3 separate regions of the Homo sapiens genome follow, and all the other regions are linked to region 1. The links come from fine-mapping of genetic effects on gene expression. A gene starts in region 1. Each other region holds a variant in brackets. All regions are shown on one strand. Distances are between the middles of the regions. Region 1 holds the start of VAMP2 (vesicle associated membrane protein 2). Region 2 holds the start of CTC1 (CST telomere replication complex component 1). Region 3 holds the start of ALOXE3 (arachidonate epidermal lipoxygenase 3).

The links.
Region 2: its variant is fine-mapped to the expression of VAMP2 in whole blood (TOPMed, PIP above 0.99).
Region 3: its variant is fine-mapped to the expression of VAMP2 in whole blood (INTERVAL, PIP above 0.99).

What each region holds. Positions count from the first base shown.
Region 1 is chr17:8,161,418-8,163,917 of GRCh38, reverse strand. VAMP2 (vesicle associated membrane protein 2) reads left to right here and starts at 970. Exons shown (of 5, transcript NM_014232.3): 1 at 970-1,040; 2 at 1,549-1,669; 3 at 2,152-2,310; 4 at 2,394-2,445. The coding sequence starts at 1,039. RefSeq lists silencers at 603-662, 793-892, 1,053-1,242, 1,533-1,642 and an enhancer at 1,753-1,802.
Region 2 is chr17:8,246,695-8,249,194 of GRCh38, reverse strand. CTC1 (CST telomere replication complex component 1) reads left to right here and starts at 1,139. Exons shown (of 23, transcript NM_025099.6): 1 at 1,139-1,191. The coding sequence starts at 1,159. It also overlaps a transcript of PFAS not described here. RefSeq lists enhancers at 1-478, 603-722, 1,203-1,342 and a silencer at 1,063-1,112. The variant T/G (reference allele first, on the strand shown) is at 1,350.
Region 3 is chr17:8,117,236-8,120,071 of GRCh38, reverse strand. ALOXE3 (arachidonate epidermal lipoxygenase 3) reads left to right here and starts at 1,558. Exons shown (of 16, transcript NM_021628.3): 1 at 1,558-1,586; 2 at 1,769-2,228. The coding sequence starts at 2,082. It overlaps TRK-TTT3-5 (tRNA-Lys (anticodon TTT) 3-5), which reads right to left and starts at 917; the gene lies at 845-917. It overlaps TRQ-CTG1-5 (tRNA-Gln (anticodon CTG) 1-5), which reads right to left and starts at 320; the gene lies at 249-320. RefSeq lists silencers at 202-291, 422-471 and enhancers at 992-1,091, 1,242-1,311, 1,392-1,471, 1,193-2,392. The variant G/A (reference allele first, on the strand shown) is at 1,700.

The DNA.
Region 1 (2,500 bases):
AGGCTTTTTTTTTTTTTTTGGCCCAGGCCCTGTGCCTGGGACCAAAGCCTGAGCCCTTTCCTGCAGTCGGGTCGCTGACCTAAGCCTGGGGCAAAGCTAGGTCTTGGCCAGTCAGCAGCCACCACGTGAAGCAGCCCCTGCCCCCATCACCCCCGGCAGCCTTGTGCCCTCCTCCTCGGGGTCCTCAGCTCACCCCACCTCAGTCGGGCCTGCTCCAGCGGTTAAGTACCCCTAGTCTGAACCTTAATCGTGAGGCGGGGCAGCCCCCTCCCCACACCCTGTAGACACTCCCCCGTCCTCCGCCCCCTGGACTTGTTTGGGCGGGAAGAGCCTGCCTCATCTTTTCTTCCTACCCTCCTACCCAGTGGCCAGGGACCCCAGGCTTCCTCTGAGACATCCACCAGCGGTGATGGGTTGGGACCAATCTCCCCCACTCCTCTCCACCCTAGCAGTAAGGTCCCCGCTCTCGATACTGCCCCAGCACCTGCACTGGCCCTCTCTGATTTCCCAACTCCAGCCCATTCCAAGTGCTGAAGGCGGGTCGCTAGGTGCTGGGACCTGGGCGCGGGGCAAGACCTTGGGCTGTGTGGGGTGCAGGCTGGTTTACTGGGTTCACGATTGAGGGAGTGGTCTGGGGGTTAGGTGTAGGGCCAGGCTGCGTTGTGCTCTAAGGGGCAGGCGGCAGGCGGTTTGGGGGGGCTGTGGTCAGACAGGGTGGGGTGGCGGTGGGTTTGGGGAAGCCGCAGCAGCCCGCCTTGGGGTCCCGCGAGTGCCGAGGGAGCTGCCGGGGCATGGTGGCGCGGGGCCCGTGGTCCTGCCCGGCACGACCCCCGCCCCGCAGCGCCCCGCAGCGCCCCGCCCCCGCGGCCCCGCTCGCGACGCGTCTCCCGCGGCGCCCCGCCCCCGCCCGCAGTGCCCGGATGCGGGTGACGCGCGGCCGCCATCTTTCCGTCCCGGGCAGCCAGCGCCAGTCGGAGCCAGCGCGAGCCGCCGCCGCCATCACTGCCGCTGCCAAGTCCTCCACCCGCTGCCCCCGCCATGTGAGTCGGCCGCCCGCCACCCTCACCGCGCTTCCCTGCGCCGGCCGCCGCCCTTGGCAACCGGCCGTCGGGAGTGCCCGGGGTCTCTCCTGCGTTCCCCGCGCCCCGGGGCCAGGCCCAAGCCGGTGACTGCGCGCGGGCGGCCGAGGAGCCCCGCGTCCCGGGCTGGCCGGCTCGGGCGATGGCCGCGGGAAGGAGCGGACCCAGTGTCCTCCTGCCCCTCCCCGCCCCTGTCACCGCGGCCGCCTGTCTTTTCGGGTCGACCCGGATCGCATCTGTGAGGTCGCCCTCAGTTGACAGGCGGGGAAACTGAGGCCGGGGGGGCCTCGCTCAAGGTCACGCAGCTCATCGGCGGCAGGGCTGGACCGAGACCAGGGCTTACATCGGGTGGCCTTCCTCCCGAAAAGGAGGACTGGAGGGACGAGGATGGACAGGTGGATGGGCGGAGCCCTGGCTGCGGGGCCGGGAGGCTGCAGGCCCTGGGTCTTAATCCGTCCCTGCTCCTCAGGTCTGCTACCGCTGCCACGGCCCCCCCTGCTGCCCCGGCTGGGGAGGGTGGTCCCCCTGCACCCCCTCCAAACCTCACCAGTAACAGGAGACTGCAGCAGACCCAGGCCCAGGTGGATGAGGTGAGTGTGGGGGGAGTCAAAAGCAGTAGGAGGGACCCTGGGGGTTGGCGTATAGGTGTAGGGGCCCATGTTGGTTTGGGAGTGATGACAGTTCACGCCTGTGGGTTTGCGGACAAAGATACCATGCCCCATCCCTGTCTCCCTGTCAGCACGCACTTGGAAGGGCGCTGGGGGTGTTAATCAGCTTTGCTAGCCTGGGGTGTGCCAGCCTGGGCAGGTGTGCTCTGGTGATGGACAGAGCGCCTGAGGTTCCATAGAGGGAGGGTGTTGCTATGACATCTGAGATGTCACCAGCATGCCCCTGATGTGTGCTCCTTGCATGTCCCCAGGTGTGCTAGGCATGTTCTGTGTGTCCTTGGCATGTTAACCTGGCAGTATCAGGGTGCATGTTCCATGTGTGGCACGGTGGGCACATGTTTGAGGATTGCCCTCACTGAGGTGGGCCTTGGCACACCCCCCTGCCTCGTGGGCCCTTCTCCCAGGTGGTGGACATCATGAGGGTGAACGTGGACAAGGTCCTGGAGCGAGACCAGAAGCTGTCGGAGCTGGACGACCGTGCAGATGCACTCCAGGCGGGGGCCTCCCAGTTTGAAACAAGCGCAGCCAAGCTCAAGCGCAAATACTGGTGGAAAAACCTCAAGGTAAGGGTGGGGACAGGAAGGAGGACAGGTGGGTGAATGGGGTATCATAGTTTGTCTTACTGATCCTCGCCTCTCACCCCCAGATGATGATCATCTTGGGAGTGATTTGCGCCATCATCCTCATCATCATCATAGGTGAGTAGGGTGAGAATGGCCGGGGCCCTTTCCCTGGAGAGGTTTCCCCAGTGGA
Region 2 (2,500 bases), 85 kb before region 1:
TTCTAGGTTCTTGGTGGGGAGAGGTTTATCCCCAGGTGGTTTCTCCCACAAATCTGTCTTGAACTGACGTTTGTGAAAATACATTCAGTTCCCCGTCCCCGCGGGGACAGTTAAGTAATGACATCAGTTAGTTAAGGCCATAAAGCAAGCATGTGAAAGTTGTGCTTTGGTGGCATTACGAGGAAGCCCTTCTCTGCTTGGCAAGATCAGGGAGACTGAAAGATGCTTAGAAGTCATCCACCAGGCGGGCTGTGTTTGAGTTCCTGAGCTCTGCTACCCCATCCATCTGAAGGCCTGCGGGATGCCGGACAGGATGTCACTTAGGAGGGAGACGGAGGCTGGGCGCGGTGGCTCCCGCCTGTAATCCGAGCACTTTGGGAGCCCGAGGCGGGCAGATCGCTTGAGCCCAGGAGTTCGAGACCAGTCTGGGCAACATGGCGAAACCATGTCGCTACAGAAAAATACAAAAATTAGCCGGGTGTGGCGGTGCAAGCCTGCGATCCCAGCTACTTGGTGGGCTGAGGTGGGAGGATCGCTTGAGCCCGGGAGGTCGAGGCTGCAGTGAACCGAGATGGCGCCGCTGCACTCCAGCCTGGGCGATAGAGCGAGACCTCGTCTCAAAAAAATCAGAGAGGGCCAGGGGCTGTGTTTCACGCCTGTAATCCCAGCACTTTGGGAGGCTGAGGCGGGTGGATCACCTGAGGTCAGGAGTTTGAGACCAGCCTGGCCACATGGTGAAACCCCGTCTCTACTAAAAATACAAAAAAAAAAAAAAAAAAAAAAATTAGCCGGGCGTGGTGGTGGCAGGTGCCTGTAATCCTAGCTACTCAGGAGGCTGAGGCCGGAAAATCCCTTGAACCTGGGAGGCGGGGGTTGCAGTGAGCCGAGATCGCGCCACTGCACTCCAGCCTGGGCGACAGAACCAGGCTTCGTCTTAAAAAAAAAAAAATCAGAGAAAAGAGACAGGGGTGTCGGGAGTTGGGATGGTGCACCGAGGCGCCTCGCGGAGTCTCTAGGAAGCGAGGGGGTGAGCAGCGAGAAGGAGCTGGAGGTGGCGAGGAAACCCGCTCACCGGTGACGTCACCGAGCGCCCCCCCACCCCCATCCCCACCCCCAAGCGAGCACCTGCCCCTCCCGGGGGCGGAGCTCCGGCGCATCATGGCGGCTGGCCGGGCCCAGGTCCCTTCCTCCGTGAGTGCTGCTATTACGTCTCTTGTTCCTTTTTTCTTGTTTGTCACAGATACTCTTTCTCTTCCTATTTCCTCTGCCTTGTCTCTCTGGGCTCGCTGGCCGCGTCCGGCCCATGGGTGAGGGGGTTGTGAGTCGGTCCGCTCCTACCTCTTACTGGT[T/G]CTGCGAATGTTTATTCCCTCATTCACGCGGCGCCCGCTGTGAGCCTTAAACTGGTCTCCGTTCACTCTCTAGGGTTTAATCCTGGTGGGAAACCAGGAGCAGGTTAATGGGGGAACTATGGGGCTGTGGGTTCCTGGAGAAGACCCTTGACGGAGCTGTAGGGGAAAAGGGCAACCATAATAAGTAAAAGCGTCTGAGACCCGAAGTGCGTGTAGAAGGCAAAAAGCGCCGAAAGGGGCTGGGTGTGGTGGCTCACGCTTGTAATCCAGCACTGTGGGAGGCGGAGGCGGGCGGATTACTTGAGGTCAGGAGTTCGAGACCAGCCTGACCAACATGGTGAAACCTCATCTCTACTAAAAATACAAAAATTAGCCGGGCGTGGTGGCGCGCACCTGTAATTCCAGCTACTCAGAAGGTTGAGGCAGGAGAATCGCTTGAACCGGGTAGACGGAGGCTGCAGTGAGCTGAGATTGTGCCACAGCACTCCAGCCTGGGCAACAGAGCGAGACTCTGTCAAAAAAAAAAAAAAAAAAAAAAAAGCGCCGGAAGGGGTTTCAGGACGGAAGCAAACACATATTCAAAGGCAGGAGGATAGAGCAGGTGTCTGAAAAACTCAAAAGTTCAGTTGGGTGGTGGTGGAGGGGTCAGAGCTGACAGTTTTGTACCTCTTGCTAAGCAGCGACTTTAACATGAGGGTAATTGGGTGTGGTGGCACACGCCGGTAATCCCAGCTGCTCAGGAAGCTGAGCAGGGAACCACGGAAGTGGAGGTTGCAGTGAGCCGAGATCGCGCCACTGCACTCTAGCCTGGACGACAGAGCCAGACTCCATCTCAAATAAATAAATAAATAAATAAATAAATAAATAAATAAATAAATAAGATGTTAAGAAAATACAATCTAAAGGATTGGTTTGTGTGCGTGTGTGTGTGTGTGTGTTTTGAGACGGAGTCTAGCTTTGTCACCAGGCTGGAGTGCAGTGACGCGATCTCGGCTCACTGCAACCTCTGCCTCCCAGGTTCAAGCGATTCTTCTGCCTCAGCCTCCCGAGTAGCTGGAATTACAGGCATACAGGCACGCGCCGCCATGCCCAGCTCATTTTTGTATTTTTTTTCTTTTTTTTAAGTACAGACGGTGTTTCACCATGTTAGC
Region 3 (2,836 bases), 44 kb after region 1:
TTCATAACATCTCTATTTTAACATGTTTTCAAATGTTAGCTCAACTTCCAACATATTTAAATAATTTATTGTACGTTCTCTTAACACTGTGTTATAGGACTCAATTATCCGGTAGGAAAAGCACAAATAATTGGTAGTGTCCTAGTTTACTTTTTTTTTTTGTCGTATTATCTTGGGTCATAGGAGTATCCCCTCTGTGAAAATCAATTAACAATATTCAACATGCTGATATTAAAAGAAAAGCTTCAAGGTTCCACCGAGATTTGAACTCGGATCGCTGGATTCAGAGTCCAGAGTGCTAACCATTACACCATGGAACCTCCCTCGTGGTGTCTTTCAAGATTGTGTACATTACTGGACATTCTATTTTGCGTGTCTTCCACACCCGTCACTTAAAACGAAAACAAAACAAAGTCTGCTGTTGGATATGGTAGACACCGTTATCGAGCACTTGAAATATATGAATTCAGATGTATTGCCAGCTTCTAAATACACATCTTCTTTTGAAGGAAGGCTTTGTACAAACAAAAAGACTTAAAATTTCATTAATATTTTTAGAATGTTGATTATATGTTAAAATAAGATTTTGGTATATTAGGGTAAGTAAAATAGATCCGTGAAATTAATTTCGCTTGCTTTTTATTCTTTGTAATGTGGCTACCAGAAAATGTAAATTCGATAATACGGCTCGCGTTTGTACTGTTTTAAAGTATGTTTATTACCCTCCACCGTCGTTTGCTGTATTTTGTGGAAATCAAGTTTCTGTATCACCTAGCTTTAAAAACTAGTAACTATTTTTGTTACCATTTTATGCGAAGTGCGGTACCCAAAAGCAAAGACATGCCGCCCGAACAGGGACTTGAACCCTGGACCCTCAGATTAAAAGTCTGATGCTCTACCGACTGAGCTATCCGGGCTCTTCACGAGAGCTTTACTTTTTGCTTATAAGAGGGTTCTCTATAGGAAAAGCCAGGCTTGTAGAACCGACAGAGGATTTTATCTGTGCAGCATAGAATATTTTGGCACAGATTTGGAAGCAGCGGGTGAAGCTCGCCTGCTGCTGATTGAGCTTTTTCTGCCTCCCGTTCTTAGAGCCCCCGCCGAGGCTGCGACGCAGGGACTGTACCATAGTAGAGGCTGGAACAGTGCGGCGCCGGAACCGGCCGCGCGGGGCCGCTGCGGGCTATGGGCTTCTCTGAGAGGTTCCTCCCCAGTCCCTAGTGGCCCAGATCCCGGACACCTGGGCTCCCGCCCAGGATCCTGCAGGCCCAGGGCGGTCCTGGAGCGGAAAGAATGCCACGCGGGGCATTCAGACCCTGTTTGCCGGCGCTGTATTTCGCTTTCCTGACCTGCCCTACTCCAGAGCAGAGAATGAGGTCGGGCGTGCCAAAGGCTGGGGACAAAGAGGGCCATGCGTGGGGGGATCGGTGTATGGGGTGACAGGGAGCTGTTCCTGACCATTTGACATGTGCTGGAATGCGTGTGCGACTCACCTGCGTGTGGCTGCAGTCACGTGTGATTTATGACCAAGTGCAACTCTCCACTGTTTAGTGATTCACACGGATGATTCACACGTAGGAATGCAGGTGCCCTGTGCTCATCTCTGCCTGGGAATGGGGAGGAACAGATCTTGGGGGACATTGGGGAGTGGGCGGACAAGCACTCCAGGGCATCAGTCCGGGCCGCTGACCAGGCGGAG[G/A]GCAGTGTCCCAATTATACAGGCGTTACCTCCTTTTCTCCATCTCAGCATCTGATCCCTCCCTCCGCAGTGGAACCCAGGCTCCTGATATCCATCTGGGTGAGCCAGCCAGAGGGACCGGCTGTGTCAGAGGCAAGCAAACAAGTATTAGAGTGCAAGACTGTGGGCGGAGAGAGGAAGCCCGAGCCGCCAGCAGGGAGCTTCGGAGAGAGAAAGCCCAGGAACATCCCAGAGAGAGCTGGGCCCATCCTCAGCCCTACCCAGCCCCGCAGCCCCTAGCCCTCCGCCCAGAAACCCAGCCCTGTCCGGCGTGCCGCTCTTCTCCTCCAGGCCGGCTGCTGCTGCGGCCAGCGTTGCCGGGGCATCCCTTCCTCCTTCCCATCATGGCAGTGTACCGCCTGTGTGTGACCACTGGTCCCTACCTGAGGGCCGGCACACTGGACAACATCTCTGTCACACTGGTGGGCACGTGTGGTGAAAGCCCCAAGCAGCGGCTAGATCGAATGGGCAGGGACTTCGCCCCTGGATCGGTGAGTACAAAGGAGACAGGGAAGCGCGACCTCAGAGGGGCAGGGGCCGCAGGCGGGAGGAGTATTCCTCCTGGACTCTTGAGATCCTGCTGAACTCAGGATACCGGCCCTGACCTCCTCACCTTCCCTATTGAGGTCCCTGTCTTTCCTGGAGATGATGAACTCCATCCAGGCAGGACTGTGGAGAGGAAGGAGCGTTGGACAGGGAGTAGAGGGACTTCCCCTGGCTCCTAAACTCCTCCCATAATTGACCGTGGGCTTTGGGCAAGTCGCTTCCCCTCTCTGAGCCTGGGTTTCCTCTTATCGAGGGGATCTGCCTGCCTCTGCCAGCCCCAGGTGGCCTCCACAAGAGTTCCCAGCCGGCCTAGGAAGCTAGTGAAATGCAGTGCCCACTGTGCTCGGGCACCTTTTTCTTTTCTTTTTGAGATGGAGTTTTGCTCTTGTTGCCCAGGCTGGAGGGCAGTGGTGTGATCTCAGGTCACTGCAACCTCCACCTCCCGGGTTTAAGCGATTCTCCTGCCTCAGCCTCCCAAGTAGCTGGGATTACAGGCGCCTGCCACGACGCCCGACTAATTTTTTGTATTTTTAGTAGAGAAGCGGTTTCATCG